4 separate regions of the Homo sapiens genome follow, and regions 1, 2 and 3 are each linked to region 4. Evidence: fine-mapped expression QTL. A gene starts in region 4. Each other region holds a variant in brackets. All regions are shown on one strand. Distances are between the middles of the regions.

Region 1 (6,044 bases), 23 kb before region 4:
CCGGGGCTGCCATGGAGGGCTGGGGCCTGCTGGGTGGGGATCTGAGAGGTCTCGCTAAGGGGACATCTGTGCTGTGACCAGAAGACAAAGCATGGGCCAGCCCTGCACGAGTCTGGACAGTGTGATGGAGAAGGCTCAGCAGGCAGGGCTGGGAGGCAGAAATGAGTTTGGCCAGAGAGGAGTGAGAAAGGAGGCCAGTGTGGCCCAAGTGAGCTGGGGGTGGGAGGGGCAGCCCAGGGGCCTGTGGACAGCTATGTGACAACACTACCCTAATGTACAGCTTCCAGCAACAGACATTGATCATCACACAGTTTCTGTGGACCCAGATCCAGGGCAGCTCAGCTGGGTGCCTCTGCCCCCAGGTCTCAAGGGAGGCTGGGACTGGGGTCTCATCCATGGCTGGACTGGGCAGGACCCGCCCCCAGGCCATTCTCATGTTATTGGCAGGATTCAGTTTTGACTGAGGGCATCAGTTCTTCTGTGACTGTTGGTGGGGGCCCTCCCTTGGTTCACTGCCATGTGGGTCTCTCTGTAGGGCAGGCAGCTCACGGCATCAGAACTCACTTCCCCAGAGTGAGGGGTGAAGGTGGGGAGGAAAACAAGAGCAAACAAGCAAGACAGAAGTCATAGTTTTTTGTAAATCTTGGAAGTGACCTCACATCACCTGTGCTGTGTTCTGTTGGTGAGAAGCCAGTCACTAAATCCAATCACCCTCGGAGGAAGGGGATCACTCAGCAACTTATGTACCAGGAGGCAGGGATCTCTGGGGCCAGTGTGGAGGCTGCCTGGGACAGTGTCTGAGAGGAGGCAGTCAGGCCTGATTCTAAACATAACGGAGGCTGGGCGCGGTGGCTCACACCTGTAATCTCAGCATTTTGGGAGGCCGAGGCGGGTGGATCACCTGAGGTCAGGAGTTCAACACCAGCCTGGCCAACGTGGTGAAACCCCGTCTCTACAAAAAAGAAATACAAAAATTAGCTGGGTGTCTCGGCAGGTGCCTATAATCCCAGCTACTCCGGAGGCTGAGGCAGGAAAATCACTTGAACCTGGGAGGTGATGAGTGCAGTGAGCCAAGATCATGCCACTGCACTCCAGCCTGGGCGACGGAGCCAGACCCTGTCTCAATAAACAAACGAACAAACAAACAAACAAACATCATGGGAGCCATTGGAAGGTGTTCCCATTGGAAGATGCTCCCATATGCCACAGGGGGCCGATATCTGATTTTTGCTTCATTTTCAACCCGTTCATGGTGCAAATGAGGAAACCAGACCAAGAAGGGAGTGACTTTCCCCAGATCACAGCACCAGTGCCCAGCCTGTCCGACTTGTATTCCGGGCTGTGTCTCGCCCCTGTGAGAAGTTTCTTTCCTCACAGTTGTAAAGGCCAGAGGTCCAAAATCCAGGGGTCAGCAGGACCCTGCAGTCTCTGAAGGCCCTTTTCCTTCCTAATCCTTCCATCTCTAAGTCTGTGAGGCAGCTAACAGGTTTTGTAGTATTGTCTCACATTAGCGTGGTGATGTCCCCAGGAAGTAGACGTTAGAACCATCCCCATTGTGCAGGTCAGGAGACTGGGGAGGCCCTGAAAGGCACAATGGCTAGTTTGGGGTCACAGAACTGGCAAGAGGCAGGAGCTTGGTGACCCAGATGGCTTCCCCTCTCTGAGCCTCAGGGGCTGGGAGCATGAGAACACACTGGTTGGCTGTCCCAGCTCCCAGGGTGGCTGTGAGTACCTGGAAGTGCCCCTTGTCTCCCCTCACACATCTGCCATCACTCTCCCCATTTCCTTAACCCCCAGCACTGCTGCCACTTGATTTTTACGAACATCTGAATATGACGAACATACAGATTTTTACGAACATCTGAATATGACGAAGTAGCAAAGGTGGATATTCACTCATTCATTTCGTATCTGTCTCCTGGGCCCAGGCCATGCCGGGGCGGGGGGTGGGGGTAACAAGAATCCGGGGAGTTGCCAGGGGAAGGGGAAGTGCTCATCTGGGGAGTGCGTGGGCACAGAGAGATTCCAGAAGGAGGTGTCCTGTGGTCGTGGTTGATTCGTGGAGGGGAGGTGTGGTGATGGCACAGAGGGTGATGACTGGGACCAGTGTCTATCGGGTCAGCTTCCTGGGCTGCTGTCACAAAGTGCTGGGTGGCTCAACACAACAGAAATGTATTCTCTCACAGTTCTAAAGGCCAGAAGTCCAAAATCCAGGGGTCAGCAAGGCCATGCTGTCTCTGAAGGTTCTAGGAGAGGATACTTCCTTGCATCTTCCAACCTCTGGTGGCTGCCAGTTTCCTTGGCATTCGTTCCTGGTTTTGTAGACGTGTGACTGCAAACTGTGCCTTCATCAGTTCGTGTCTGTCCGCCTGTGCGTGTCTGTCCAATTTTCCCTGTTATCATAAGGATAGCAGTCATTGGATTAAGGCCCACCCTAATCCAGTATGACCTCATCCGGATTCTATCCGCACAGACCCTATTTCCAAATAAGATCTCATTCACGGGTACCAGAGATCTTTTTGTTCAGGGACACAGTTCAACCCGTAACAGGAGTATTGGGAATGATCCCCCTCCCAAAGGCCGGGTACCCGCGTGCCTACGGGGACTAGGGGAGCAGCGGGGAGTCGGAAGACATCGCAGGAACCCAGCCCCCAGCCAGGGGGTGTGGGGGCGTGAGCGGAGCCCGCCTGCTCCTCAGCTTGGCGCGCTCTGGCGGCAGCACCAGCAGGTGGCGCTGTGCCCTCCCGTGCGGCCGCCCAGCCCGGCGCGGAGCTGCCGCAGACAAAGGTCTCGCTTTCGGGTCGCGAGG[A/G]GCTTGCGCACAGCTGTAAACAGGCCAGGGGCACGGCCACCTCATGGGTGACACACACGGGAGGAAATCAAACCAGGCGGGGCCGAGGCGGGGTGACTGGGTGGCGACTTTGCGTCGGAGGCCGGCGGGGGGCGGAGGAGGAGGTGACAGGGGTGGCGAGGAGGACCATGGTTTGCAGACCGTGGTGTCAGCGGGGCGGAAAGGAAGGCAGGGAGGAGGGATAGGGGACCTGCGAGGCTGCAGGGGCCAGGAGTTTGCCTTTCGTTTGGTTCCTCGCCTGCAAGCTGAGCCGGCCTTTCTCAGGCCTCTCCAGAGGCCGTGCGGCTGATGACACTGCGGTTTGCAGATAGCTCTCCTGTTACTGCAGGCCCAGGTCTGCGGGTGCTCGGAAGGCAGCCCTGGGCACGGGTGGGCTGTCTGTGCAGATAGAGACTTGAGGGGTCCTTCCCCCCAACCCCAGCCCCAGACCCTGCCTCAGGGGAGCTGGGATGCCTGAGGTGGTCCTGCTGCTCCTGGTGGGGGTCAGCACAGCCCCTCAGAGGCGCCTTTGATATACAAAGGGGCGAGGCAGTGTGGGGCTGAGGAGCAGGGGTCAGGTCCCCGCCATGGAGCTGCTCACATGGCATCAGCGAAAGGGAGCGGAGTGCACAGCGGGCCGCTGGCCCAGGAGTGGAATGAGTGGAAGCCATTCCTTTATTTTATTATTATTATTATTATTATTATTATTATTATTGTTGTTGTTGTTGTTATTATTATTATTATTATTATTATTATTATTATTGAGACAGGGTCTTGCTCTGTGGCCCAGGCTGCAGTGCAGGGGCCAGATCACGGCTCACTGCGTCCTCGACCTCCTGGGCTCAGACCTCCAGAGTAGCTGGGGCGGCAGGTGCACGCCAACACTCCCAGCTAATTTTTGGATTTTTTTTGTAGAAACAGTTTCACCATGTTGCCCAGGCTGGTCTCAAACACCTGGGCTCAAGGGATTCCCCCCGCCTCGGCCTCCCAAACTGCTAGGATTAAAGGCTTGAGACACTGCATCCAGCAAGAGGCCATTTCTTACTGTCACCTCCCTACCCGCACAAGGCCCTCCCACCACCTCCTCGCTCACCGAGCTACCAGGCCCGCCCCTGAGGCTGCTGGTCCTTGACAGTTGGTTCAGCGATTGATTCACACAGCAGATACTGGCCTCTGTACACCTGGCTGGCGCTGGGTGCCTGGCCTGTGGGAAGCACCCTGGCTTCTGTGGAAGGCTCAGGGGTATGGGGCAGACAGATCTTGTGGAGAAGGCATGGGCTGCGAGCCTGGGGACCTGGATTCAGTGGCCACTCTGCCATCAGTGGCGTGGTCAGTCACCATTGCACGCTAGCCACAGGACTATTCTCCACAGAGTCCTTCCCTCTGTCCCCTGCTGCAGAGGTGCCTGGTGATGACAGCCAGCCTGTAGGCCTTGTGCTAAAGTGTCCCTTGTATCTGCTCAGCACTCTGCAAGATAAGTGCCACTGCCATCCTCACTTCCAGGTGGGGAAACTGAGGCACTGGAAGGGGAAGGAACTCCCACAGCTAGGTAGTGGCAGCTTGGCAATGGCGCCTCCCCGTGTGCACACAAGCCTGGGAAGGGCCAGGCACCAGGACCACATTCCTTCCAATTACAGTGGCCTTCCAACGGTCAGGGCTGGGCCCGGCTGCTGGGCAGGGCGGGGCTGGGAGGCCCTAGGCCCCAAGTGGTGGTTAATGGCGGCAAGGAGACATAAACAGAGCTAATGAGCCCCTTTCATCGTCTCCCTGCTCTAATGAAGGCCTTGGACTCTGGGCTTTGCATTTTGGGGGTTCTTGATTCTGGAGCCTCAAAGAGTCTTAGGGCCAGGGGTATGTGGGCCCCCCCATAGGGGTGGGGTGTGAGCTTATGGACTCCCAGTGTCCCCTCCCAGGGCAGCCAAGCCAGGGTGAGGAAGTGGAGAGGAAAGGGAACGGGAAGCATTGTGGCATCCCCCTAAGAATGACAAGCCCCAGAAAAAAGGGAGTGTTCCCGTGGCAACCCAGAGCAGTTGCTTGGCAACTGCTGGCCCCCAAAATACTTGCCTGCAGGAAGGCTCCGGGCTGGGGCTTTCCGATGGGCTTTCCGATGGCTCACTTCCAACCCCCACCAGCGCACACCCACCCCTGGCCCAAAAAGAAGACTCTGAGGCTGAAAGAGAAAATGCAGAGACCAGGGTCCAGGACCTTCATTAGAGCCTGGGGAGGAAGGGGCCTGACCTGCTGAGTTTCCTCAGATACTTCTCATGGCCCTCCACCCTGACACAGGACCCAGTAGACTCTGCCCCTGGATCCTTCCTGAGGGACACCCCAGTCCACTCCCCCCTCCCCATCTCCCCACTCTGCCAGCCACCCGGCATCAAGCCAGTCCCCTAGCAACAGAGGCCGCTTCCTGGATACCTGAGTGAGAGTTGACAGTGGCAGAATGTCAGAAAACGCAAGGTCAGAAAGCACAGCGATGGCTCGGTGCCAGCCAGAGTGTGTGGGGCCATGGGGTACCACGTGTGGTACCGTGTGCTTTGCCGCCCTGCAGCCGTGGGCTCCCTGGCCTGGGGCTGGATGGCATGCCAGGTTGTGGTTGGGCTGGGTACAGCCCTTGGAACAGGGGACTGTGGTTCTGGGCCAACTTTGATACCGACTGACTATGTGACCTTAGTGTGTCCCTTCTCGCTGGCCTCAGTTTCCCCATTGGTGGCCCATCTACCCCTCTGCCTGTGTGTTTACCGTTCAGTGCATAAACATTGCCCTGTGAATTATGTCACCTACTGGGGCCTTGGGGCAGGAGAGTGAGGGGACCAGGACCAGGCCGCCACTGCCCTTCCTCCTCACATGTCGGCATCCACCTCGGCCATCAGGCCCCTGGTCCTCAGGTGAGGCAGGTGGCTTTGGAGCAGGACACCTGGGTCCAAATTCCAGCTCAGCGCTTATTGCTGGGCATCCTAGAAGCAGCACAGGTCCCCTCTGAGCCTCCCTGTCTGCCCTGAGGTCCCCGCAGTTGCTGTGAGGGTGTAAGAAAGCCCTGCCCTTGGGCTCCCATAGGGGCTGCCTTAGTTTGTGGGCACCCACCCTGCACCCAGACTTGGGCACTGCGGGAGCCGAGGTGAGAACATGGATGAGGGGTGTCCAGCCTGGAAGGAGCGAGGTGGAGCCCCAGACCCTGGGAGAGGGTGGGGCAGTAGAATGGTGGGAAAAGGCAGGT
Region 2 (6,044 bases), 40 kb after region 4:
TGGAGAAGGAGCTCCCTCTCTCAGGGCTGGGTTCCAGTCCATCAGCCAAAAATGGTGCGAGGTCTGCATTGTACTCCAGACCCCTGGACGGGCCCCTAGAGGACCCAGTGGCTGCTGAGGCAGGCGGGGCCTGGCTGTCACTGGGCCCAGCACAGCAGGCTTTGCTTCTAGCGGGGCCGTGGGGGTTGCTTTGTTTGGGCTTGTCCATCCTGAGGGCCTCAGGGTGGGGAAATGGGGAGGGGTCGTGATGACCTGCCGAAGGCCTCTCAGCACCCCAAGAAGAGCTCGCCCAAGAAGAAGGTGACCTGTCCTTTGAGTCAGGAGCCCAGGACCACTGCCCAAACCTCCCGGTCCCAGGGCCAGGGAGTGTGGAGAGCAGGCAGCAGAGGTGGAGACAGGAGTCCCCAGGGCCTGAGACACCGCAGGCGGCAGAACAGCGTGGTTGGGATCTGGGGTCCCCTGTGTGACTCCTGCTGGGGGCAGGGACTGGGCCGGGCACCGACACCGGCTTCCTGTGGGGCTTGGGGTTTCTGTGGCTTCTCCTTCACAGGCAGAGAGGGTAGAATTTATGGATGCCTCGAGAGAGCTCCTGCCTGCCGGCTCTCTTTCTGGAGGGACCCGGACCCGGGTGTGGAGTAGCTCGGCTTTCAGCTTCCTGCACAGGAATAGGAGGCAGCAGCTGTGCCATGCTGGGCAAACTGCCTGCCTGCTTCTCTCCAGCCGTCTGCCTGCTCTCCACACTCCCTGCCCCTGGGCCCGTTTCCCCTTCTGTAAAATGGGAACAACAGAGAGGTTGGTAGGTGGAATCACCAGGATTAGCAAATGTAAATTCAAGAGGCCCAGTTACATTTGAATTTCAGGTAAACAGTGAATTGTTTTTTAGTATGTTTCATTTTTTTCTTTTTCTATTTTTTGAGACAGAGTCTCGCCCTGTCACCCAGGCTGGAGTGCAGTAGCGTGATCTCAGCTCACCGCAATCTCCACCTCCCAGCTTCAAGCGGTTCTCCTGCCTCAGCCTCCCGAGTAGCTGGGATTACAGGCACCCACCACCACGCCCGATTAATATTTGTATTTTTAGTAGAGACGGGGTTTCACCATGTTGGCCAGGCTGGTCTCCAACTCCTGACCTCAAGTGATCCACCCACCTCGGCCTCCCAAACTGGTGGGATTGCAGGTGTGAGCCACTGCGCCCGGCCCATAGAAATTTGTTTCAAATATTGCATGGGACATACTTACACAGCAGTTCTTGGCAGTTTATCTGAAATTCAAATGGAATTGGGCATCCTGCGTTCTACCTGGCACCTGTCCCCATAGAAATGAGCGTGAGTGCCCGGGATCTGCTGCGGGGCTGTGCTGGGCTCTTTCTCAGCCTGGCCCGAAGTTTCCAGATCTGATTGAGCGAGAGAGCAGCAGGACCTGCCCCTCTGCTGGGCTCTTACCTTCGCGGCACTCGCCACTGCCCAGCAGCAGGTGAGGCCCAACACAACCAGTTGCAGGCGCCCCATGGTGAGCATCAGCCTCTGGGTGGCCCTCCCTCTGGGCCTCGGGTATTTATGGAGCTGGATCCAAGGTCACATGCTTGTTCATGAGCTCTCAGGCACTCCCTCCCCTCTACACCCTCAGGTGCAGGGAGATCCAGTTTTCCCCAAACCCACAGTGCACCTGTGCAGGTTACCACTTACCTGGGAGCAGAGGCAGGTGGCAAGGTGGCGGGTGGTAAGGGGGATGGTGGGGCCGGGCAGGGTGCACAGTGCCCTGCCTTCTGGTTTGTTCACAGGGCTTGGTGTCACTGTCAGAGAAAAGGGCATACTTTGTCTCCATGCCCTGCCTGTCCCCTAGGTCCCCAGAGGGGCTTCACAGGGGACCAAGCACGTGACTTCTGGGACAGAGAGGGTGACATGCTGTGGGCCCCCCACCCAAGTGGCTGACCTTATCTGTACGAGCTTTTCCTGGGGCCATGGAGCAAGCAGTCCAAGCTGGGTGCGGGTCCCAGAGCAGCACAAAGCCGTCTCATTCAAGGGTGGGGAGATGTCACCATCCAGCCTGATGCATCCTGGGAGGGAGGACTAGAGGCTCAGGGGGTGTGGGTGGGGGGGTGCGGAGGCATCTAGCCCAAACTTGTGGTCTTCCCTGAGGAAAGAAAGGACACAGCCAAGGCCCTGGGGCATGCCCAGGCAGAGTGACAGGAGAGAAAAGGAGGCCAGCGGGAGGGAAGGGAGAAGGTCCTGTGAGGTTGTGGAGGAAGAGGAGGCCACTCGTATTTTCTGTGAACAGGTATTAATCCTGGAGCCAGGAAAGGCTCTGAGAAGTGAAAGAACACCACGAACAAAGTCTTCAGATGGGGCCTGTAAGCTCAGCCAGTGTGAGGTCACCCTCACCGAGACGCTCGGTGGCAGCTCCAGCCACCGCACAGCCCTCTGCAGTGATGGGAACAGGGTGAGGGCAGCCAGAGCCTTCCCACCCAACAGTCCCCCAGGAGACACTGGGGCCTGTGCTTCCCACACCAACCACACTCCCGTTCTGCCACCCCTGCGGCCGGTGCCAGGGACCGAGTGGACCTGCAGAGCCACGTCTGTCCCTCTGTCTGTCGACCACAGCCGGTGCC[A/CA]GCAATTCAGGAGGCCTAGTGGGCGAGGGAGGCTGGGGAAAGGACTGGAGGGTGGGAGGAGGAGCTCGGCCACAGGAAATAAGGGGCCTGCAGGTGGCTGGGGCGCCCCAGGGCAAAGGCATTTGCCTCAGACCTTTGCCCGGCTACTCTAGTTCTGAGAACCTGCCCTAAATAAAGGAGGTAATTCTGAACTGGGAGACATGCCCTTTGTGCTCCAGGATATTCACTGCAGTGTCATTTACAGTGGCTAAGGAGGAAAGGGGAGGGCAGAGGGGAGGCAGCAGGGAGAGGAAGGAGGTGGGGGAGAGGGCTGGGGCAGGGGAGAGGGAAAGGAAGGCCCCACTTTTTATATATATACATTTTTAGAGCAGATTTAGGTTCACAGCAAAATTAGAAGAAGGTTACAGAGATTTCCCGTATGTCCTCGCCCCAACCCAGTCTCCCCCATTATCAACATCCCCCACCAGGGGGTACAGCTGTTATACTTTATGAACCTACATTGACATGTCATAATCACCCAGAGTCCACAGATTTAGGGGTTTTTTTGTTTGTTTTGAGACAGGGTCTCACTATCACCCAGGCTAGAGGGCAGTGGCACAATAACAGCTCACTGCAGTCTTGAACTCCTGGGCTCAAGGGATCCTCCTGCTTTAGCCTCTCAAGTAGCTGGGATTACAGGCGCCCGCCATCACACCCGGCTAATTTTTGTATTTTTAGTAGAGAGGGAGTTTCGCCATGTTGGCCAGGCTGGTCTCGAACTCCTGAGCTCAAGTGATCTGCCCGCCTCAGCCTCCCAAAGTGCTGGGATGACAGTTGTGAGCCACTGCGCCCAGCCCCTAACCTAGTTTTGGCCATGCTCTGAGCCCACATTCTTTGTGGAACCTCAAGATGGTATCTAAGCTCTGTACTCTGTTGAGAAGTTGGGTCTCCATTTCAAAGGCTCCCGTGTATACGCATTAAACAAATATGTATGCTTTTCTCCTATGAGACAATCTGTCAGTGATTTTTCAGTGGTCCTTCAGAGGGAGAAGGGGAAAGCTCTCCCTTGGTCCCCATAGTATCATCCTGAATAGTTTGAATGCTCTAAAACCCCCCTGGGCTCCATTGATTCATTCCTTCCTCACTCAAATCCCTTGAAGCGGCTACATTGTCTGGTCTACATACCCGGGGTTTGTCGTCATGCACCAGGAAAATTTAGGACAGGGACAAACACGAGGACTTTAGGAGCGGAGGTTTAATAGATAGAAGAGAGGAAAAAGAGAAACATCTCTCTCTTCTCCAAGCATAAAGGACTGGTGGGCAGCAGACACACTGAATTTTATATTCAGGTTTGTCCTTGCCCAGCCCTGCCAGCCGACTGCAGGAGCAGGAGAACTAAGGAAGGGAAAAGGAAGCAGATGAAAGGCTTAAGAAAAAGGCGGATCTGTTGGCAGCAGCCCTTATAGAAAGAGAAATTAGCCATGTGAGAGGATGTGGACGCAGATGTGGACGTGGAAGAGGTCAAGTTAGACAAGGATTTAAGAGCTGACCAAGGCTAGAGAGGGATCAATGTGAGAGATGCAAAAAAAAAAAAAAAAAAAAAAAAAAAAGGGGGCACTGGAAGGATGAATGTCCAGAAGGCAATGAGGGAAATGGCCAAGGCCGTGAGACAAAGAGGCCATTGGCCAAGGGCTGCCATACCTTAGAGGAACCAGATACTAATCTGATTGGGCTGGCAGGAGCTGAAGGATGTGAGGACTAGGACAGACCGGGCTCCTTCTCACTGGGCCTCCAGGAGTCTGTGGTCACATTAGAAGTTGAAGGCAGCAGGATTCTGCCGTATCTGGATTCCAGATTTCTCGCTGATGGCTGAGCTATTATATGAAGTTACAAAAAGAGGAGAAAAGGAACCCCTCCTCTGGGAAACAGAACAGGAGAAGGAGCCATGCCTTGTGAAAACTTCCTTATAGACTTAAACGAAATGCCCCGTGCCAGAAGCTATCGGTATATTCTAGTGTTTATTTGCATCTTTTTCAGGATAGGTTGAAGCTTTCCCCACCAGGACAGAAAAAGCACGACAAATGACTAAAGTACTGTTAAAAGATATTATCCCCAGGTTTGGACTGCCTCTATCTTTACAGTCAGACAATGGGCCGGCATTTGTAGCTGAAATAGTACGAGATTTAACAAGACTGTTAAAAATAAAATGGAAGTTACACACAGCCTATTGGCTGCATAGTTGAGGAAAAGTGGAACGCATGAAGTGGACACTCAAGCAGCTACTGAAGAAATATTGCCAGGAAGCTCATCTGAGATAAGTTCAGGTTTTGCCTATGGTCCTCCTCCGAGACAGGTGCACCCCCACCAAACAAACTGAGTATTTACCCTATGAGGTTTTGTTCAGTTGGCCAACCCCAAATCATAGGTCAAATTAAAGGTGATCTCCAGGAACTAGAGGAATTAACCTTAAGAAAGCAAATGCAGGCTTTAGGAATAGCCATGCAAGAGGTCCATGGCTGGGTACAAGAAAGGATGCCTGTAAGCCTGATAGACCAGTGTGCCCCTTTAAATCTGGAGACTCTGTTTGGGTTAAAAAGTGGAATCCAACTTCTCTAGGACCCATATGGGGTGGGCCCTGTACTGTCATCTTGTCCACTCCCGTTGCTGTTAAAGTTGCAGGTGTTATGTCTTGGATCCACCACAGTCGGCTGAAACCGGCAGCTCAGGACGAGTGGACCAGCCAGCAGGACACAGATCATCCAACCCAGCTGATCCTGAGAAGACAACAAGCTGCTGCTGAGGACGATCACCCTGCTCTGGTCACTCGTGAGGCTGACCAGTCAACGCACGGCTGAAGCTTAAGGAGACAAGCCCCGCTCTAGTCACACACCCGAAGCTGACTAGTCTACGCACGGCCGAAGCTTGAGGACTCGTCAAGCAAGTAAATGTGGTTAGAAATCTTAGGACTAGTAGTCTTCCTTATAATACTAACTGTTTTACTATTGTTCCGTTGCTGTGCTCAATCTCCTCCCCCAGGCAAGGCCCTCTTCTGTCCTTGCTGGATATGAATACGCTGTACATTGTTTTGCTGTTATCACCCCCCTTGACCATGTTAAAATAAGTACCCTTAGAAAGTGTCCCCATTGTACACACACTACAGGGTCAGGAAACAGTATAACTAGGACTCTATTATTCTATACTTATTAGGAGTGTACAGGGACTCACCTAGGAACTTGTACTTACAATCGGATCACCTATTCAATTTGTGACCCAGGAAATGGCCAGCCTTATATATGCTATGACCTTCTAAGTCTTTACCTAGGACTTGGTTTGAGGTTCATACTGAGTCAAAGAAAGGAAGTCTTATAAATCAAAGCCAAGCCTCTACCCCCCAGGGGGGGCTATAGCCATATACTTTGATATTTGTCAGTTAACATCCGTGAACCCAACCTATCTCACA
Region 3 (5,881 bases), 23 kb after region 4:
GTGCTGTAGGGGAGGTGAGGTCAGGGAAGTATCCAGGGCCTGGCCACATAGGCCCTGAGCCCTGCCAGGACCTCGACTTTCTCGGGGAGGAAGACAGGAGCAATGATGGCTGGCTTCTCTGTCTGGTGTGGGCTGGTACCAGAGCCGCAGGGGTGTTGGTTAGGAGGCCGCTGTGGCAACCAGGCTGGGAGCCCTGGAAGGGGCCAGCAGGGTCAGAGTCTAGACAGGATTTGGAGACAGCAGATGGGAATTGCTCACAGAATGGGTTTGCCTGGGGGCTCTTTCTTCATCCTCCAGGTGTCCTGCGACAGATGAACCATTTGTAACCCCCACCCTCTGTACCCCAGCCCTGGGTCAGGTGCCCCATTATTCACACACGCTCCTGACCCCTCATTGCCAGGAGCTAGCATGGTTGTCATTAAGCAGTCACCTGTGGCCCTATGTCCGAGTTCCGCCTGTGCTCTGGCCCTCAGGGTCAAGGTAGCAGGGGCCTGGCCTATGCTGACCACACTGAGCATCCTGGCCGGCCCCTCCTTTCTTACCTCCAGGGCTTGGACTAGGGACTGTCTGTTCCCCAGGCTCAGTGATGCTGTTATCCTGGAGGGGCAAGTGCTTCTCAAGGAAGTGTGGGAGGAGGGAACAGTCTCTTACAGGAGAAGCAGGGTAGGCACTGCTGGGACAGACCCCTCCTCATTCCATGGAGGCCTCACATGGGGAACAGAAGGACGGAGGCCTCACTTGGGGAGTAGGAGAATGTGACAAGGCCCTCTCCGGACCCAGCACCTGGCCAGAGGCTGTGAGTGCCTGTGCTTGGTGCTGAGGGGACTCCAGAGGGTCCTTGGCCACTGCACTCTGGGGGAGCCGCTCCAGGGTCTTTTCCCTGATGGTCCATCCCCCGCCGCGATGCAGGTGACCAGCCAAGATAAGGCTCCGGCTGTAATCCGCAAGGCCATGGACAAACACAACCTGGAGGAGGAGGAGCCGGAGGACTATGAGCTGCTGCAGATTCTCTCAGATGACCGGAGTAAGTCAGAAGACCAGAGGGCGATGGCAGAGGGGGCAGGTCCACACCACTCCCCAGCCCCAGGTTGGAAGCCTTTGGCCCCAGAAAATTCACCAGCAGAGTGTGGGTAGACACTGTGGACAGGGCAGCCCTGGCTGCCCCCATTGTCTGCTTGCTGTCCCCAGCAACCACTGGACCTCCCCAGTGTGTGCCCTTCCCTAGGCGTGAACAGGCAGTTCAAAGCTCACATCAGTGAGGAGCAAAGAGAAAAGGCATTTTTCACTGGGACAGGTTAGCCACGTGGCCCACTGGAAGGGACTCTTTCTGGCTAAGACAAGAAAACATGTGCTCTACAAAGAATGGTGACAGCTGTGGACCAAAGTGTCAAGTGTTAAAATCCATGAGTGTGTGATTCTAAAAGCAGAACAGGCTACTAGGAGGCCAACTCAGTATTCTAGAAACTGGGAAAGTGTCAAGAACCAGTGCAGGCTCAGAGTGGGGTATCCTGGGCCTGGAGACGCTGGGCAAGCTCCTTAAGCCCTCTGTGCTTGTCTTCTCATCCCCCAAATGGAAATGAAAGTAGCCAGTGTGTTCATCATATATGTAAAAATCTATATGTATGTATATATGTGTATATGTATGTATATATGTGTATATATATGCATGTATATGTGTGTGTATATATATGCATGTATATGTGTGTGTATATATATGCATGTATATATAAAGCATCTATGTGCACCATAAAAGTTAACTATAAATACTATCATCGCTGTTTTCTTTCCAGTGAGCTGAACACCACCTCCCACCATTAGCCCAGACAGTAAGCAATGACTCCTGTGATCCCTAGAAGTTACAGTCTAAATCCTCTGGCAGCTTCTTGCACCATTTCGGTTAGGTGGGCAGGGTAGGCGGGACCCCCATCTTACAGAAAAGGAAGACTGAGGCCTAGAGAGGTTAAAGATGACGAAAAGCCACACGATGTCGGCAGGAGCACAAATCGAGCCCAGCTCTGGTTTATAGCAGGCTGTGGGCCAGAGGAGATGGTGGGAAATGGAGCCAAAAGGAAGTGCTTGCCGGGTGCCAGGGTTCAAGGAGTACAGGCCTCCCTGGAACGGGCGCCAGAGCCCTGGGGCAGGCCTGTCCTTTCCTGGTCCTTGGATCCCTTGTCCTGAGTAGGGCAGGATTCTGGGAGGTGACCTGGATTCTAGAAAGCCTGTTCCAGGTGGGCAGCCAGCACTGCAGTATGGGCAGGACGGGGTGACCCTCTGCCAGCTCAGGCCAAGCCGGGGGGTTCTGGAGTCAGTCCCTGTTTAAACAAGAGTCATCAGGTTTTGTGAGGACCTCAGCAGAGTCTGTCCTCAGGCAGGAGTCATTGAGAGGGGTCCTTGGAGTTCTGGAGCTGTATTGGAGGGGATCTGAGGTCTGTGGCTCAAGACAGTCCTTGTATGGGCTCTCAAGCGGTAGGGGTATCCTGCAGGGCCCCCAGGAGCATCCCTGATCACCCCTCTGCCCCTCCCCACCAGAGCTGAAGATCCCTGAAAACGCCAACGTCTTCTATGCCATGAACTCTAC[C/T]GCCAACTATGACTTTGTCCTCAAGAAGCGGACCTTCACCAAGGGAGTGAAGGTCAAGCACGGAGCCAGCTCCACCCTCCCTCGCATGAAGCAGAAAGGACTCAAGATTGCCAAGGGCATCTTCTGAGGGCATCCTCCCAGGGTCTGGCTGGCTGGTAGCCAAGCACTTATGGACCAGAGTGGCCCAGGCCAGCTGGGCGCCTTCCTCCCACCTGCCAGCCCAGGGTACCCCAGACTCCAGTTTCATCCTGAACCTCTCCCGCTGCTGGGATTGACGCCTGCCATTGGTCAGGCTGACCTGGCCTCCCGTGGACCACTCGCTGCCTTAGGTGCCTTCTGCTCTCTGGAACCAGAGGACTAGCTGACTTTTGCCAAGGAGCAGTGCCAACGGGCATGGCATGGTGCCCTGCCTGCCCCCGGGCGCCACCTCTGTACACTTCCCTGACACCTTCCCAGGTGTGGGTCACTGCCACCTGTGCCCATGGGCACCCCAGAGCACCCACTGTGACCACTGCAGTTCTCTCATGCCCACAGGCACTGGCCTGTGACCTTCGCAGGGGTCCCGGCCCCTCCCACCACTCTAGCCTTTCTCAGGCTGCACCAAAGATTCCATCATCAGGGCCAACTGAGAGTGAGGGAGTCTCACCCACCGCTTACCCCAGCCCTCCCCTGGGAGCAGAGAGAGAAACCCTCTTCATGGACCAGACTCTGCACCCGGTGAGTGAGGACAGTCCCAGCTGAGTCCCATCGATGTTGAATCTCATGCCACTGCAAGTGCCATTCACCACTGCGTCCTGGGCTTTACGAGACCATGCAAGACGGGGGTTAGTGAGGAAGGAGGATTTGGGGTGGGGGTGGGGTGATTGAATATTTGTATAAAAAGCAAAAAGAAAAAAAAAATGTTTGTTTACTGATTGGGGAGGGGCAATATTTATTTGTTGTAAATAGCAAATGCTAGACTTGAATATTATATTAAAATCCTGTTTCTACTATACCCTGGTCATTACAGTTTTGTTCTTTCATTACCTGTCTTAATTAAAATGAGATAGAGACTCTCACATTCCGTGTTTAAGTAAGGACCCTTGCAGGGTTATCCAGTTATTTTATGCACAGGAAAAGCCAGCCACTCTTCTCAGCACACTGAAGGAAACACAAAAGTTTACCTTTCATACAGCAGATGTTCCTTTTGGCACCATTAAACTGGGAAATGTGCTGAGACAGCCCTCAGAACTCCTGGGACTAGAGTTTGGAGGTACTTTCACAAGGCATAGCAAGAATTTCTGAAATTTAGCTGTCTTTAAAAGTAACATTTGTGGCCAGGCGTGGTGGCTCATGCCTGTAATCCCAGCACTTTGGGAGGCCAAGGCAGGTGGATCATGAGGTCAGGAGATCGAGACCATCCTGGCTAACATGGTGAAACCCCATCTCTACTAAAAATAAAAAAAATTAGCCAGGCATGGTGCCAGGCACCTTTAATCCCAGCTATTCGGGAGGCTGACGCAAGAGAATCGCTTGAACCTGGGAGGCGGAGGTTGCAGGGAGCTGAGATCACGCCACTGTCCTCCAGCCCGGGCAACAGTGTGAGACTCTGTCTCAAAAAATAATAATAATAAAGTAACATTTGTGACAAAAGATGGCAGAGTAGGAGGCCCCAGGGTTCAGTTTTTGCACAGAAACAACGATTAAGCTGGAAGAAAGAAAACTATCAGAATAAACTGTTTTGGGACTCTGGAACCTGGTCGGACATAGTCACCAGGGGAACACTTGGTGAAGGGAGATGCTGCTGAACTCCAACAGTTAACAGGATCTCCATCAAGTCACAGGCTGACCAAGAGACAACAGAACAGAAACTTCGTGACTATACACAACAAGGAATACAAATATAAGCCTGGCAAAAATACGAATATAAGCCTGGAAAAGTCACTATGGACACAGAAGACTGCATCCTTCAATAAGCAAAAAAGCAATTCCTGAGGAGGGAGACAATCTGATTTCCAGAGTCACTGCATTATAATACTCAATGTTCAGTTCTCAAAAAATTACAAAGAAACAAAAATATGGCTCATTCACAGGGGAAAAGAGGATTTAACAGAAGCTATCCTTGAGGAAGCTCAGACATTAAAATTACTAGTCAGAGACATTAAATCACTTGTCCTAAATATGCTTGATGAGCTAAAGGAAACCATGGAAAATAATGTATGAGCAAATGGGTGATTAGCAATAAAGGGATAGAAATTATAAAAACCAACCAGAAGCTCCGGAGCTGAAAAGTATAACTGAGAAGAAAAATGTACTAGAGAGATTCAACAGCAGATTTAAGCAGGCAGAAGAAAGAATCAGTGTACTGGAAGATAAGGCAATAGAGATTATTCTGTCCAGGGAACAGAAAGAAAAAGGAAGAAAAATGAACAGAACTAGAGGTTCTTGTAGGACACCATTAAATGTACCAACATACATTTAATGAGAGTTCAGAAAAGGCAGAGATTATTTGAATAATGGTCCAGAACGTCCCAAATTTGATGAAAGACATAAATCTCCATATCCAAGAAGCTCAATGAGTTTCAAACAGGATAAACTCAGATCCATACCCAAATTTATTAGTCAAATTGTCAAAAGACAGAAAATCTTGAAAGCAGCAAGAAGAGATTCATCATATACAAGAGATCCTCAGGATTAACAGCTGATTTCTCATCAGAAACCATGGAGTCTAGAAGGTAATAGGATGACATATTTAAAGTGCTGAAAGAAGGCTGAGCATGGTGGCTCACACCTGTAATCCCAGCACTTTGGGAGGCCGTGGTGGACAGATCATCTGAAGTCAGGAGTTCGAGACCAAACTGGCCAACATGGTGAAACCTTGTCTCTACTAAAAATACAAAAATTAGCCAGGCATGGTGGCACATACCTATAGTCCCAACTATTTGGAGGCTGAGCCAGGAGAATCGCTTGAACCCGGGAGACGGAGGTTGCAGTGAGCCAAGATCGCACCACTGCCCTCCAGCCTGAGCGACAGAGCAAGACTCCGTCTCAAAAAATATTCTCAAAATAAAGTGCTGAAAGAAGAAGCAAAACATCCTTTAAGGATGAAGGAGAAATTAAGACATTCTCAGATAAAAGTTAAGGGAGTTTTATTAGTAGACCTGCCCTACAATAAATGGTAAAGGGAGTCCTTCCAGCTAAAATAAACACTAGACAGTAACTTGAAGCCATATGAAAAACTAAAGAACACTGGTAGAGATAACTAACAGGTAGTTAGCAAAGCCAGTGTTATTTCACTTTGGATTTGTGTAACTCATCCTTTTT
Region 4 (6,044 bases):
ATCCTGCCTCTGCCTCCCTAAGCTCTGGGTTACAGGCATGAGCCACCACACCCAGCCTCTGTGTCTGTCTCTATGTCTCTGAGTAGGTATGTCTCTGTCTGTGTGTCTCTATCTCTGCGTGTGTGTCTCTGTTCCAATGTCTCTGTGTGTGTGTCTCCGTCTCTAAATGTGTGTGCCTGTGTCTGTCTCTGTGCGTCTGTGTCTCTGTGTCTGTCTCTATGTGTGTGTGTGTGTGCCTGTGTCTCTGTCTCTATGTGTCTCTGTGGGTCTGTGTGTGTGTCTGTGTCTCTGTCTCTATGTATGTGTCTCTGTGTGTGTGTGTCTGTGTCTCTGTCTCTATGTGTGTGTCTGTGTGTGCATCTCTGTGTATCTTTGTGTCTGTGTGTGTGTGTGTCTGTGTCTCTGTCTCTCTGTGTGTCTCTGTGTGTGCATCTCTGTGTATCTTTGTGTCTCTGTGTGTGTGTGTGTGTCTGTGTCTCTGTCTCTATGTGTGTGTCTCTGTGTGTGCATCTCTGTGTATCTTTGTGTCTCTGTGTGTGTGTGTGTGTCTGTGTCTCTGTCTCTATGTGTGTGTCTCTGTGTGCATCTCTGTGTATCTTTGTGTGTCTGTGTGTGTGTGTGTGTGTCTGTGTCTCTGTCTCTCTGTGTGTGTCTCTGTGTGTGCATCTCTGTGTATCTTTGTGTCTCTGTGTGTGTGTGTGTGTCTGTGTCTCTGTCTCTATGTGTGTGTCTCTGTGTGTGCATCTCTGTGTATCTTTGTGTCTGTCTGTGTGTGTGTGTCTCATGTACAGCCAGAGCAGTGATCAGGCTTCCCAGAAGTTGGGAGGTGAGTCCCAAAGGTAGGGGAACAAGGCAGGAAGAGGAACTTTGTAAAAACAGACACCGGCCAGAGGGACTGGCTAAGTAACGCCCTCCCCCGCCCTGGCTCCTGTAGATGATATAGTCAGATGGGAGGGAGCCAGGCCAGCCGCGTTGGGGGGTTTAGTGTGATGAATTCTTTACTCTTCACCACTCCAGCCTCCTTGGGGCCACCCCTCGCCCCAGCACCCAGGACCTTCAAGGCCAGAATAGTGGTGATTCCTCTATGTCCTCATGAGTCACTTGTCCTTCTGGGCTATAAAACGGGTGGGCGCTTGTTCCCAGGCCCATCACTCAGCGAAGGAGATAAAGAGAGCAGAGGAGATAAAGTCAGTGGCAGGCAGCTTCTGGACTTTCAGTTTCCGGAGGCATTGGGAGCTTGGCCCCAGAAGAAAGGGATGGGAGGAGGAGCTTAGGGCCGAGGGCAGTGTCTCGGTCACCTCTTTGTGGCCCTGTGGGGACCTCCTGCCTCGAAATACGCCTCACCCACATTACCCTCCCTGGCCAAACGGCTTGGAGGCTTCCTAAACAGCCTCTAGGGATCTCCATCCCAAATCAAATCTACCCATCTTGCTTCTTAAAAAAAAAACAAAAACAGGCTGGGCGTAGTGCTCCTGCCTGTAATCCCAGCTCTTTGGGAGGCCGAGGCGAGCGGTTCACTTGAGGTCAGGAGTTCAAGATCAGCCTGGCCAACATGGTGAAACCCTGTCTCTACGAAAAATACAGAACTAGCTGGGCATGGTGGCAGGTGCCTATAATCCCAGCTCCTCGAGAGGCTGAGGCAGGAAAATCACTTGACCCCAAGAGGCGGAGGCCTTAGTGAGCCGAGATCACACCACTGCACTCCAGCCTGGGTGACAGTGAGACTGTCTCAAAAACAGCATTTATCACATAGAGCTGATTATTAAAATACTGATTTTAGAAATTAGAAATTCAGAGAAGTAAAATGAAAACCAGTAGAGCTTCCACCCAGCTGCAACTTACCACCATAATTTTTGTGAAGTAGGCCCTTCTAGTCGTGTGCACATGGGGGTCTTGTTCTGAACGGATGAACTGCCGCCTCACTCCAGTCACAGTGGAAGTGTTTCGTGGGTGTCTGAGGATTGGCACTTGGGAAGGGGGCAAGATGTGCTCGTGGAATGTGCTGTCTGGTCCCGCCCTCTCAGTTTACAGATGGAGAAACTGAGGCCCAATAGTACGGACCAGACCTGGGGAGGTTGGCATGGCCAGGGCTGCTGGCAGCAATTGCTGGCCTCCATGAAGACTGAAGGCTGAGGCCAGGGCAGGCCCAGTGATGAGTGAGGCATGAGGAAGGGTCCCATTCATTCATCCATTCTCCTGGCCCTGCTGTTAAGCCCCAGGCTGTCTTCCTTCCTCACTGGCTTCCAGAAAGAGTAGTTGAGGATGTCCCTGTCCCTGCTTCCCCTTCAGCCCCAGCAGCCCCACTTCCACCCTGAGACCAGGGATGTCCAAGCCACAAGCAGCCCCAGCTGACAGGCCACGCAGCCATGTGCTCTGCCCAGCGTTGTCACTCTTGATGCCTTCCTCCTTGTCAGATGCCTCTCAGCCCCAACCTTGGTGCCTTCCGCTCTCCCCCACCTCCCTGGCTTCCCCTCCTCTGAGGGTGTCTGTAAGGGGATAGTGTGGGGCTTTGCCCCAAAAAGGTAGGGCCCCACTCTCTGACCCTTTCCCCCACTGCACACACAGCCCCACACTCAGGATTTCCAATTGCACTGACAGGGTCACTGAACACATGGTCAGCCTCTCCAAACTCCGCCTGAGCCTGTAGTCAGGTGCAGGTGCTCAGTGCTGAGTGCTTCATGTCCATTACGTAATGTCATCCTCCCCGCAACTGTTTGAGGAAGTCATTTTCACTACCCAGATTTTCCAGATGAAGAAACAGTGAGGCTCAGAGGGGTTAAGCAACTTGTGGAAGGCCACAGAGTTGGGGAGAGGCTTTGCTGGAATTCGGGGTAGCTGACTCCAGGGCGGCTTCCCCACACATGATCAGCACGTACACATTTCAGCCCTACGCAACACACGCACTGCAGCAGCGTGACACGCAAACGGTGCCTAACCGGGGTACCCAAGGCCCCACGACACACGTGACAGCCGGTCCTCCGGGAGACCCAGCCAACGCGCACCCCTCGACCTCCCCGGCCCCGCCCTCTTTGTTCAGACCCCGCCCCTCCAGGCTCCCGGTCCCGCCCCGGGTCTGACCTCGGCGAGGGCGGGGCCGCGGGCGCGCGCACGCACGCGTCCCTCGGACTCTCCGGTTCCGCCCCTCCCCGGCCCCACCCTCTTCCCCTCCGGCCCCGCCCCCCAGCCTGACATCAGCAGGGCCGGGCCGCGGGCTCACAGCGGTGGCAAAGCCCAGCCGCGCGGGCCGCGCCGCCGCCCCCGCCGCGCGCCGGGCCGGCCCCGCGCCCGCGCTGCGAGCCTTCCATGGTGCAGCGCATGTGGGCCGAGGCGGCCGGGCCTGCTGGCGGCGCCGAGCCGCTGTTTCCGGGCTCCCGGCGGAGCCGCAGCGTGTGGGACGCCGTGCGCCTGGAGGTGGGCGTCCCCGACAGCTGCCCGGTGGTGCTGCACAGCTTCACGCAGCTAGACCCCGACCTGCCGCGCCCGGAGGTGGGTGAGCTGGGGCGGTCGGGCGGGGGGTGCGTCGGAGCCTCCCCACCCGCGGCAGAGCTGGGCAGGTCGGGGCGAGCCCCGGACGGGGCCGGGCGATCCCAGCGGGCCGCCTCCCTCCTCTCTCCTCCATAGGTGGGGGTCGGGGCCTTCTGCAGAAATCAGCCAGCAGGGTGGGCAGTGGGGGCTGCCGCCGCGCCCCGTCCAACAGTAGGGACCACGGCTGGGGTTTTGCGCCCCTCAATACCGTTCCAGGGCCTGCTGTCACCAAGGCCGCTGCAGCCCAGGTGGACCTTTTTCTGCGGCACTGTCCCTGTTTACATCGGTGGCCTGTGCCTTATTTCACTCAGTTCCCACCCAGGGCCCGCAGCGCGTCGTTAGCCTTTACGATGCAGGTGTGGAACAAGTGGTCGGGAAGGCCAAATCCTAGAATCCTCAGAGGTGATGAGACCATAGGGGCCTTCCAGACAGACCCTACTTGGGGCAGATGTGGATCTGGTGACCAGGGACATCGGGGCTGCTCAGAGCGGGGTGGGGGGGGGGTCGGGGGATGGGGTGGAGCAGCAGGCCTCCAACACGTGGGACCAGATGTCCTGGTGGTGAGGGGAGGAGGGTGGCCCAGGCCCAGGGCGGGCAAGACTTGTTTCTGCTTAACTGGAAAGAGTGCCAACACCCTGAATCGGTAAGGACTGGGTAGGATTCAGAGAAGGGAGTGGTGTACCTGTGATGGATGGAGGGGAGGGTGACTAGGTGAGGGCGGGGGCTTGTTTCTCGTGTGCCCTGGGTCTCTGGGTGGTGCCATCTGCCTCCCACCTGACTGCTGCTGACTACACAGCAGAGGGAGTGGAATCCAGAGATGCCCCCCTCGCCCTGCTCTGCCTGGGCACAGGGCCTGCACAGAGGCCATTCCTGGATCGGGGGCTCAGGGCCCATCAGAGCTTTGGCTGGGCTGCAGCCTTCACAGTGAACCTCCTGAGTCCCCGTGCGGCATCGTGTTGCCTTGCTGCGTCTCCAGTCGCTTCATGGCTTTAGACTGTGGCGCGTTGTGATTGCTGGCGATTGTTAGCCTGAGTCTCGTGCCTCTTGGTGTCCCGGTACCTAGACAGGGCCTGGATGCGACTTGTTTCTCCGCCCAGTGTTGGGCAGAGCTCTTGGTGGGGGAACACCACACGCCTGAGAGACCCTTTCCTCCTGAGCTTGGCAGATGGCCGGACCAGACGTGTTCCCTCAACCCTCATCTATCCAGGGCTCTGGTCCTCATTGGCGGCTGGAGAGGGACCCCTGGGAGGGTGGGGGTGGGAGGCTGACACCAGCCCAGCGCTCATCTGGCTTTCATTACCTCTGGCAGCAGCTCGGGCTTTGTGTGCTGGGAGGGTCCGGCGGAGCGCTCACAGTGGCCGTGCAGGTTCCCTCTCTCCGTCCCTGAGGAACTGAGGGAGAGGCAGAGCTGAGCCCCACCCCTGCCTGGGGGTCTTGTCTTCCCTCTCTCTGGCCCTGGCGCTCCTTGCCCAGCCTCAGCACTGAGATCCAGACCTCGACTGCTATTTAGAAATCAAAGGGGAAGCTTCTGGCTGGGTCAGGAAAACCAGGATCCTGGCAGGAGAGGAGGCCACTGCCGGAAACTGAACACAATGACCATTTACCAAGGGCCCAAGGGAGGGGGCGGGGAAGTCCCTGTCCCTCCTGCCAACACCCCCCGTCCTGGGGCTGGTTTCCTGGTGTCTATGTGGCCTGCCAGAGCTGACGCTGCGCACTTGGTCCCTGTCCTCTCTGGAAACCACCAGACAGTTTCTGCCTTCCCCCGCATCCCTGTTTCCCTACCTAGCTTCCACCCGGTGCTTCCCTCTGGGCTGCCAGATCTCCTCACATCTGGGCTTCCGCTTATCTTCCCGATTCTAAGCCAAGCCACCAATGACCCAGCTTGGCCTGCACAGTTCTTGCTTTCTGGAGGTGACCTGGTCCGTGCCCCCATCTCTGGACAGGCTGTTGCTTTGGCCAGACAAAAAGTGCAGGTTGTGGGCCACCCCCTCACTTCATCTGCCTTAGACCAACCCTACAGAGTAGGTGCCAACACCACCTTCTAGGAAGCTAGGGGGTCAGAGAAGGGAAGTCTCTGACCTAAACACCCGTGCAGCCAGCAAGGGCCGCAGCCAGGATTTAAGCATGGGCTGTGTTCTCTGTGGCACCTACTGTGTGCAGGAGCCACCAGGAGTCAGAGGAAGCCCAGGCAGCCCAGAAGCCCTGAGGTCAGGTGAGCAGTAGGGAAGCTTATGGCTCAGAGGAAGGCAAAAGTGCTTTGGGCCACAGGACGCTGGGGAGAGCTACCTGGAGGAAGCAAGCCCAGAACTGGACCCCACAGGTTTAAGATAACAGCTAATAAGAGCCAGCAGGTTTTGGGGAGGTCCTTGGCTAAGTAATTTGCATCATCTCCTTTTGGGGTCAAGACTGTTAAGAGCTCACTTGACAGATAAAGTCACTGAGGCAACAGAGGTGAATTAGATTGCACAGAGTGACCAAGCTGGTCAGTGGCAGGGCCAGGATTCTGACCCAAGGCCTGA

Evidence for each region. PIP is the estimated chance that this variant, and not a neighbour inherited with it, causes the effect.
Region 1: its variant is fine-mapped to the expression of RALGDS in whole blood (TOPMed, PIP above 0.99). The same link has a PIP of 0.9 or more in T cells and blood mononuclear cells.
Region 2: its variant is fine-mapped to the expression of RALGDS in cerebellar hemisphere (GTEx, PIP 0.93).
Region 3: its variant is fine-mapped to the expression of RALGDS in nasal epithelium (TOPMed, PIP above 0.99).

The regions. Positions count from the first base shown.
Region 1 is chr9:133,141,285-133,147,328 of GRCh38, reverse strand. It overlaps a transcript of RALGDS not described here. Among named protein-coding and RNA genes, the nearest start is that of GBGT1, 20 kb to the left of the region's middle. RefSeq lists silencers at 2,564-2,683, 2,714-2,813 and enhancers at 2,960-3,519, 3,972-4,061, 4,112-4,241, 4,641-4,690, 4,741-5,020. The variant A/G (reference allele first, on the strand shown) is at 2,810.
Region 2 is chr9:133,078,022-133,084,065 of GRCh38, reverse strand. It overlaps the pseudogene CELP. Among named protein-coding and RNA genes, the nearest start is that of CEL, 19 kb to the right of the region's middle. The variant A/CA (reference allele first, on the strand shown) is at 2,606.
Region 3 is chr9:133,095,411-133,101,291 of GRCh38, reverse strand. It overlaps RALGDS (ral guanine nucleotide dissociation stimulator), which reads left to right. Exons shown (of 18, transcript NM_006266.4): 17 at 910-1,024; 18 at 2,530-3,570. The coding sequence ends at 2,705. Among named protein-coding and RNA genes, the nearest start is that of RALGDS, 23 kb to the left of the region's middle. RefSeq lists an enhancer at 1-90. The variant C/T (reference allele first, on the strand shown) is at 2,579.
Region 4 is chr9:133,118,414-133,124,457 of GRCh38, reverse strand. It overlaps RALGDS (ral guanine nucleotide dissociation stimulator), which reads left to right and starts at 3,218. Exons shown (of 18, transcript NM_006266.4): 1 at 3,218-3,486. The coding sequence starts at 3,304. RefSeq lists a silencer at 2,929-3,638 and an enhancer at 3,618-4,314.